Linked DNA regions of Homo sapiens. The protein of the gene in region 2 purifies or fractionates together with the protein of the main gene of each other region. This does not show direct contact. Each region holds a gene or a part of one and is shown on either strand. Other genes may lie near its edges.

The links.
Region 1: the proteins of PIK3R6 (region 2) and ASRGL1 purify together in Homo sapiens (affinity purification with mass spectrometry; one large-scale study listed by BioGRID and IntAct). This does not show direct contact.

The regions. Positions count from the first base shown.
Region 1 is NC_000011.10:62,382,389-62,386,197, reverse strand, and holds part of ASRGL1 (isoaspartyl peptidase/L-asparaginase), read right to left. Parts: exon of another isoform or gene 2,950-3,809; intron 1-2,949. UniProt on the Homo sapiens protein: Has both L-asparaginase and beta-aspartyl peptidase activity. May be involved in the production of L-aspartate, which can act as an excitatory neurotransmitter in some brain regions. Is highly active with L-Asp beta-methyl ester.
Region 2 is NC_000017.11:8,864,614-8,869,020, forward strand, and holds the start of PIK3R6 (phosphoinositide 3-kinase regulatory subunit 6), read right to left. Parts: upstream 3,062-4,407; 5' UTR 2,916-3,061; intron 1-2,915. UniProt on the Homo sapiens protein: Regulatory subunit of the PI3K gamma complex. Acts as an adapter to drive activation of PIK3CG by beta-gamma G protein dimers.

The DNA.
Region 1 (3,809 bases), on a different chromosome or scaffold from region 2:
TTAAAATCTTTTTTTATTTTACTTTTATTTATTTTTGAGATGGAGTCTCACTCTGTTGCCCAGGTTGGAGGGCAGTGGCGTGATATTGGCTCACTGCAACCTCTGCCTCATGGGTTCAAGCTATTCTCCTGCCTAAGCCTCCCGAGTACCTGGGACTACAGGCGTGTGTCACCATGCCCAGCTAATTTTTGTATTTTTAGTAGAGATGGGGTTTCACTATGTTGGCCAGGCTGGTCTCGAACTCCTGACCTTGTGATCCACCCACCTCAGCCTCCCAAAGTGCAGGAATTACAGGCGTAAGCCACTGCACCCGGCCTATTTTATTTCATTTTTGAGATGGAGTTTTGCTCTTGTTGCCCATGCTGGAGTGCAATGGCGTGATCTTGGCTCACTGCAATCTCCACCTACTGGGTACAAGTGATTCTCCTGCCTCAGACTCCCAAGTAGCTGGGATTACAGGCATGCACCACCATGCCCGACTAATTTTGTATTTTTAGTAGAGACGGGGTTTCACCATGTTGGTCAGGCTGGTCTCAAACTCCTGGGCTCAAGTGATCCACCCGCCTCAGCCACCCAAGCTGCTGGGATTACAGGCGTGAGGCACCACGCCTGGCCCTAAAATCTTTTATGTGGCAAAAATACCATAGCAAAAGCAAAATAAAAACAGCAGATTTGGGATTTTTTAAAATTTTATTTACAGCAGAACATAACCTTAAGGCTCATAAGAGCCAGGTACAGTGGCTTGTGCCTGTAGTTCCTGCTACTCAAGAGGAAGAGGTAGGAGGATCACTTGAGCCCAGGAGCTCAAGGCCAGCCTGAGCAACATAGAGAAATCCCATCTATCTATAAAGAACGTTAAAAATGTAAAAGAAAAAACAATGAGACTGATAAGAAAGGGAAAAAATAATTCAAAGGAAAAAATGAGTGTAGGACAAAACTAGGCAAATTTGTAAAAAGGAAAAACCCATAAACAAATGTAAAATGCTCAAACTCACTGTCAGGGAAAGGGAAGAGCAAATTAAAGTAACAGTGTTACCCTTTACCTGTTAGATAAGGAAGGAGGGTTCTCCCAGTCCCTGCTGGTGGCAGGCCCACCTCTAACATTTGCAAGGGGCCATGGCAACAATACAAATACAACTGGAGGCCCACATACCATATATTTAATATTGGGAAGTTATAAGTATGTTCTATCCTGTTACTGTGGTAAATGTATCTTGAAAAATCGGTATTTTTCTTGTATATATGTTTCACTGTATATAAGGTGAACTTTTTTTTTTTTTTTGAGACAGTCTTGCTCTGTGGCGCAGGCTGGAGTGCAGTCGTGTGATCTCGGCTCACTGCAACTTCCATCTCCCAGGTTCAAGTGATTCTCCTGCCTCAGCCTCCTGAGTAGCTGGGATTATGGGCATGCACCACCACTCCCGGCTAATTTTTTGTCTTTCAGTAGAGACGGGGTTTCACCATGTTGGCCCCAGGGTGGTCTTCAACTCCTGAGCTCGGGCAGTCTGCCTGTCTTGGCCTCCCAAAGTTCTAGGATTACAGGCATAAGCCACCACACCCAGCCATGAATGTTTTGATATACATAGTGAAATTATGATTACAGTCAACTAGAATAACATACCTATCATCTCACAATTACCTTTCTTTATTTTTTTGTGGTAAGAGTACCTAAAATCTACTTTTTAAATTTTTTTGAGATGGAGTCTTGCTCTTTTGCCCAAGCTGAAATGCAGTGGCGCCATCTCAGCTCACAGCAGCCTCTGCCTCCCGGGTTTAAGGAATTCTCTGCTTCAGCCTCCCAAACAGCTGAGATTACAGGCGTGTACCACCACACCCAGCTAATTTTTCTGTATTCTTAGTAGAGATGAAGTTTCACCATCTTGGCCAGGCTGGTCTTGAACTCCTGACCTCATGATCTGCCTGCCTTGGCCTCCCAAAGTGCTGGGATTAAAGGTGTGAGCCACTGCGCCCGGACTTTTTTTTGTTTTTGAGACGGAGTCTTGCACTGTTGCCCAGGCTGGAGTGCAGGGGTGTGATCTTGGCTCACTGCAAGCTGACAAACTACCAATGATGACTTAACTTAGTTATTATTGTGCATACCAGGGTCATTTGTTAATCGGCTGGTGATGGCAGATGAATGGCAAACACACACACACACACACGCACACACGTGCACACACACACATGCACACACACAGATGCATTTAATAAGTTATGTATTTATTCCATTAAAATATTTTTTCTTGGCTTCATTCCAGGGAGTACTGATTTTTTTTTTTTTTTTGAGACCAACTCTTGCCCTGTCGCCCAGGCTGGAGTGCAGTGGTGTGATTTCGGCTCACTGCAACTGGGTTCTAGCAGTTCTCCTGCCTCAGCCTCCTGAGAAGCTGGGACTACAGGTGCACACTGCCAAGCCTGGCTAATTTTTTGTATTTTTTAGTAGAGATGGGGTTTCACCATGTTGCCCAGGCTGGTCATGAACTCCTGAGCTCAGGCAGTCCACCCACCTTGGCCTCCCAAAGTGCTGGGATTACAGGCGTGAGCCACCAAGCCTGGCCTGATGATGTTCTTTTTTTTTTTTTTTTTTTTTTTTTTGAGTAGGAGTCTCGCTCTGTCGCCCAGGCTGGAGTGCAGTGGCGGGATCTCGGCTCACTGCAAGCTCCGCCTCCTGGGTTCACGCCATTCTCCTGCCTCAGCCTCCCGAGTAGCTGGGACTACAGGCGCCCGCCACTACGCCCGGCTAATTTTTTGTATTGTTAGTAGAGACGGGGTTTCACCGTTTTAGCCGGGATGGTCTCGATCTCCTGACCTCGTGATCCGCCCGCCTCGGCCTCCCAAAGTGCTGGGATTACATGCGTGAGCCACCGCGCCCGGCCCCTGATGATGTTCTTATACTTAACGTGACTTCTATTGACAAAATGGCAAAAGACAAGCTTTCTTGAGTCAACATAGTTTTTAGCAAGTTTTTAATTTATTTTAATTTGGAGAAGCTTCCTTCTGCTGAAGCAGCAGCAACTGGAATTACCAACAAAATTCTCAAAGCAGTACTTAGATTTAGAAATGAATACTGATTTTTACATTATCACACTCAAATACTATATGGATTTGTGGGGAAACGAAAGAGATCAGGCTGTTACTGTGTCTATGTAGAAAGAAGTAGACATAAGAGACTCTATTTTGTTCTGTACTAAGAAAAATTCTTCTGCCTTGAGATGCTGTTAATCTGTAACCCTACCCCAACCCTGTGTCGCAGAGACGTGCTGTGTTGACTCAAGGTTTAATGGATTTAGGGCTATGCAGGCTGTGCTTTGTTAAAAAAGTGCTTGAAGGCAGTATGCTTGTTAAAAGTCATTACCATTCTCTAATTTCAAGTACCCAGGGACACAATACACTGCGGAAGGCTGCAGGGACCTCTGCCTAGGAAAGCCAGGTATTGTCCAAGGTTTCTCCCCATGTGATAGCCTGAGATATGGCCTTGTGGGAAGGGAAAGACCTGACCGTCCCCCAGCCCGACACTGTCCCCCAGCCCGACACCCCACCCGTAAAGGGTCTGTGCTGAGGAGCATTAGTAAAAGAGGAAGGCCTCTTTGCAGTTGTGATAAGAGGAAGGCATCTGTCTCCTGCTTGTCCCTGGGCAATAGAATGTCTGGGTTTAAAACCCGATTGTATGTTCTATTTACTGAGATAGGAGAAAACAGCCTTAGGGCTGGAGGTGAGAGGTGCTAGCGACAATACTGCTCTTTAATGTTTGTATACATGCACATCAAGGCATAGCACCTTTCCTTATTTATGACACAGAGACATTTGTT
Region 2 (4,407 bases):
TGCAACCTCTGCCTACTGGGTTCAGGTGATTCTCCAGCCTCAGCCTCCCGAGTACCTGGGACCACAGGCGCCCGCCACCACGCCCAGCTAATTTGTTGTATTTTTAGTAGAGACGGGGTTTCACCGTGTTGGCCAGGATGGTCTCGATCTCTTGACCTCGTGATCCACCCACCTCGGCCTCCCAAAGTGCTGGGATTACAGGCGTGAGCCACCGCACCCAGCCCCTTCACAGTTCCTGGCAGAGGGATGAGATCAGAGACAAAGAATGAAGGGATGAATGAATTGGGATTCAGAGAGCATTCTTCCTTAAACACAGAACATCAGCACTGAACAAGTCGCAGGCCAGGTGCACACACACAGCTCATCACTCCCTTGGGGTACAACAAGCCCAAGGACTGACCACAGAACCATAGAAGCCTTCTATGGACACGGCAAAAAGAAGCAAATGGGGACCACCTGTTCACAGCTGCTGCTCCCTGTTGTTGGTGTGAGATAAAGTGGGGGTGACCTCCTGGATAGAGGAGAAGACTGAAGTAAGAGGGCTTGGAGGAAGATCTGAGGAAGCCTGGCTCAGGTTCAGAGTTTCTGAACCTGAAGATTCTGAACATGAAGATTCCAGATCTGACTGTCCCTTGTGCCCCCATCCCCCCAGCTCACCATTGCTGGCTTCTCGGACAAGCTGTTCAGACAGAAGAACCCACCACCTAGGCCTCCCTATACCTGCAGGAATAAAGCCTGGGCAGAAAAGATGTGGAGCTTCCAGGCCTCCCTATACCACAGCTGCAGGAATAAAGCCCTGGCAGAAAAGACGGGGAGCTTCCCAGGGCCACACTCTGTCTGCCTCCTGTCCTCCAGCCACTCCTGTGGCACAGAGAGAGGGGACCTGCAGAGCCTGGGTCACCTGCCTCTGTTGCCTCCCCTCTTCTCCCACCAGAGCTGCCTCGTGCCCTCAGGGTTTCAGGGGCAGCTCAGGCTTGCCAGACGTCATAGCTGTGTTTTTTTTTTTTTTGGATCGGAGCGTGTGGTGAGTGAGCTGGCAGTGAGGGACTAAGGGAGTGAGAGGACAGAGCTCTGGGTCCTGAGGGGGCCCCCTCAACCTTTAGCCCTTGCCCCCATGAGGTCTACTTCTCAGATTCCCAAGGAGCCGGGAGGTGAGGGTCCTGCTGCCCTGGCTGGCCCCCGTGGACAAGGACAGGCCTGTTTCCTCAGCTGTGTCTGCTTCTGGCTGGAAGGAAACACCTGGATATGAAAGAGCCAGTGGGGTGGGGGTGGGGGAGCATTGTTCCCAGGGGCAGGGAAGCTTGGTGGGATCTGAATTCAGGTGGGGCCTGAATGCAGCAGGGACCAGATGGCGATGACTGCAGCTTGGCATCTGCAGCCACCGTGTCAGCCGAGGCGCTTTCGTGGAGACAGTGTAGGGCCTGCAGCAGGTTCTAGTGTGAGGCAGCGGGGCATGGTGGCCAGGCAGGTGGCATTCCAATCCTGTTAATAGGGCAACTTGGGCTGCTTGCTTAAAACCTCCGTGCCTCAGTTTCCCTATCTTAAAGGGGACCTGACAACAACACCTACCTCATAGGCTTGTCATGAGACTAAATGAGATGATATTTGAAAACCACATAGAGCTAAATAAATAAATGGACCGGGCCAGGCGCTGTGGCTCATGCCTGTAATCCCAGCACTATGGGAGGCCGAGGTGGGTGGATCACGAGGTCAGGAGATCAAGACCATCCTGGCTAACACGGTGAAAACACAAAAAATTACTACTAAAAATACAAAAAATTAGCCAGGCGTGGTGGTGTGTGCCTGTAGTCCCAGCTACTTGGGAGGCTGAGGCAGGAGAATCGCTTGAACCCAGGAGACGGAGGTTGCAGTGAGCCGAGATCGCACCACTACACTCCAGCCTGCGCAAAAGCGTGAGACTGTCTCAACAACAACAAAAAAGGACCGGCCTGCGAGTGCTCCACACACCCCCTCTAGCTGTGCTCCCCCCAACACCTGACTTTCCCACTTGCTTTCCTGCCTCTGGGGGTTTGCACACTTTGCTCCCCATTGCTGAGGTGCCTCTTGCCTCCTCTTTGCACACCAGGTCCTCCCTTGAGCCTCAGCCAGGCACCACCTTCCACGGGACCCTCCCTGAGCCCGCACCCTGCAGTCTCTTTCATCCTGCACACACCACACACCTCCTGGCTCGCTGAGGACCCTGAAGGTTCTGAGTTGGTCACTCGCAGCTGTGTTCAGACCCTCTTTGCAAGCAGTCAGCCCTTCAAGGACAGAGACCAGGCCTCGGTCAGACTCTGGCACACATAGAAGATACTGGATTTGTGTATAGGAAGAGAATCAGCCAGACCAGCATGACTTTCACCAAATTCCCCAGGAAAGTGATGGGCAGATGATGTCCCAGAAAGGGCACAGACTGGGACCCAGATGTTTCACACTGAGTCCTGCTCCTTGCTAACCCACTCTGCAATCTTTGGCAAGTTGCTTCATCTCCCTAAGCCTCAGTCTTCTGTTCTATAAAATGGCACTAAAACACTTATCCAGTCAACCTCTAAATGCTGGTGAGAATCAAATGGGAAAATGGGTGTACTCTGCAGCACCGGGCATCAATCATTAGTCCTATTATTAACAGCATGTACAGGATTCCAGAAGAAAGGAGAGTCCTTCTCACAGGGTCCCGTGTCTTTTCATCTTGTGAAAATGGGCTGAAACAATCTTAACTTGGCAGAATTACCCTGCAGTGTCTGAGGTCACCCTTCTCAGAAAGACGGCCCTGGCAGCCCTGAGCCTGGATAAATAAGAGCCAGGGGTGTTTCAGCCCCCCCAGGGGCTCCCCTTCCAGGTCCCTCCGTTCCACCCCTCTATCTGTTCTGCTCAGATCTGCCTGCCTGGCGATCTCCATCCAAGCCAGCACTTACCTTGGTTCGGTGGCAGCTTCTGGGCTCCCCAAGTCCTTCAGCCAACTCCCCACGGTCCTGAGCGAGGTCCCCAGTCCCAGAGAAGCAGATGTCTTGGGGGAGCCTCCACGGGTGTCTGTGGTCTTGACTGTGCTCTTCAGATCTGCAAAGAAAAGCTCGATGTCTCACAGCTCTGTCCCCTCCTCTTCCTTCCCCTTCCTTGTGGCCCTCGAAGCTCCTCCCAGAATGCATTTTGCTGTGAGGATCCTTTCTAAAGAAGCATGACCCACGGTCACTGGAGGTCCTTTATTCTGATCGAATGTGACCAATTTTATGGGGCAGGAGGGGGACACCTCCCAAGAGACTCCCTCTGGTGTTGACGGGGGAGGGACTGATGCAGGGAGCCCTGACCTCTCTCTCAAGCTCCAGACTCACCAACCATCCCCCACCCCTGGACATGGCCAGCCAGATGTCCCTCAAGCACCTCCATCTCAACAGGTACAAACCGAGCTCATCATTTCTCCCTCTAAGCCCACTTCTCTGTTTCCTGCCTCAGAATCAGCAACCTCGGTATCATCCTAACGCCTCCCTCTTCCTCGCCTGTTACATCTAAACTGCACCAAGCCCTGTCAATAGGTCATGGATCCTCCACTTTCTTCCATCCCTATGGCTGTCACTGTTTCACCTGACTACCATGGTCTTTCTCCTGAAACACTACAATAGCCTGAGGTCCTTCACCCCACAGCCAAAGGTCTCTTTCTAAGAGTGAAACACAAATCTATTCATGTTACACTCCTGCTACAACCTTCAATGGCTCCTTATTACTTTAAAGAGAATGGCCAAACTCCTCAGTGTGACTTGCCAGACCCTTCTTGATCTGGTCCCTCCCTAAACTCCAACCTCATGCTTTATCCCCTCACTCCAGCCCCTCCCAGAAGTACTGCAGTCTCTTAACTATCCAGGCTGTGGGAATCACTTCCCAACCCTTCTCCTGGCTCATCCCTTGTCATTCATTATTTATCAGAGAAGAACAAAAAAACAAGCCTAAGAGGCAGGAGGAAAGTGGAGTGCCAGGGATGCTGGCAGAAGACAGAATGCCAAGGAGGAGACAATGGTCAACGACGCCAATGATTGTGGAGAGGACACAGGTGAAGAGAATGAAGAAGCATCTGCTGTCCTTGGCAATTAGGAGAGAGCAGTGCTGGGCAGGAACAGTAGACCTGCTGGGGGAAGTTGATCAACCGCATGGTGACACATTTGCTACTTTGTCATTTTCTTTTTTTCACATTTTGAAGTCAAACACTATTTGGGAGAGTCTCTGACACATTTCTAGAGCTTTGAAAAACTCACAGATTCTATGCTGTCATCCCGTTGGGCCTAATGGGTAAATGGCTCTAGAGAGTGACAGATTGCTGACAGCAGGGTTTGAGTGCTGGATCCAGCTATGCCTGAAATTCTGGGGCTGAATCTACTCTTGGACTGTTCATTGTACATGATCCAATAAATTCCATTC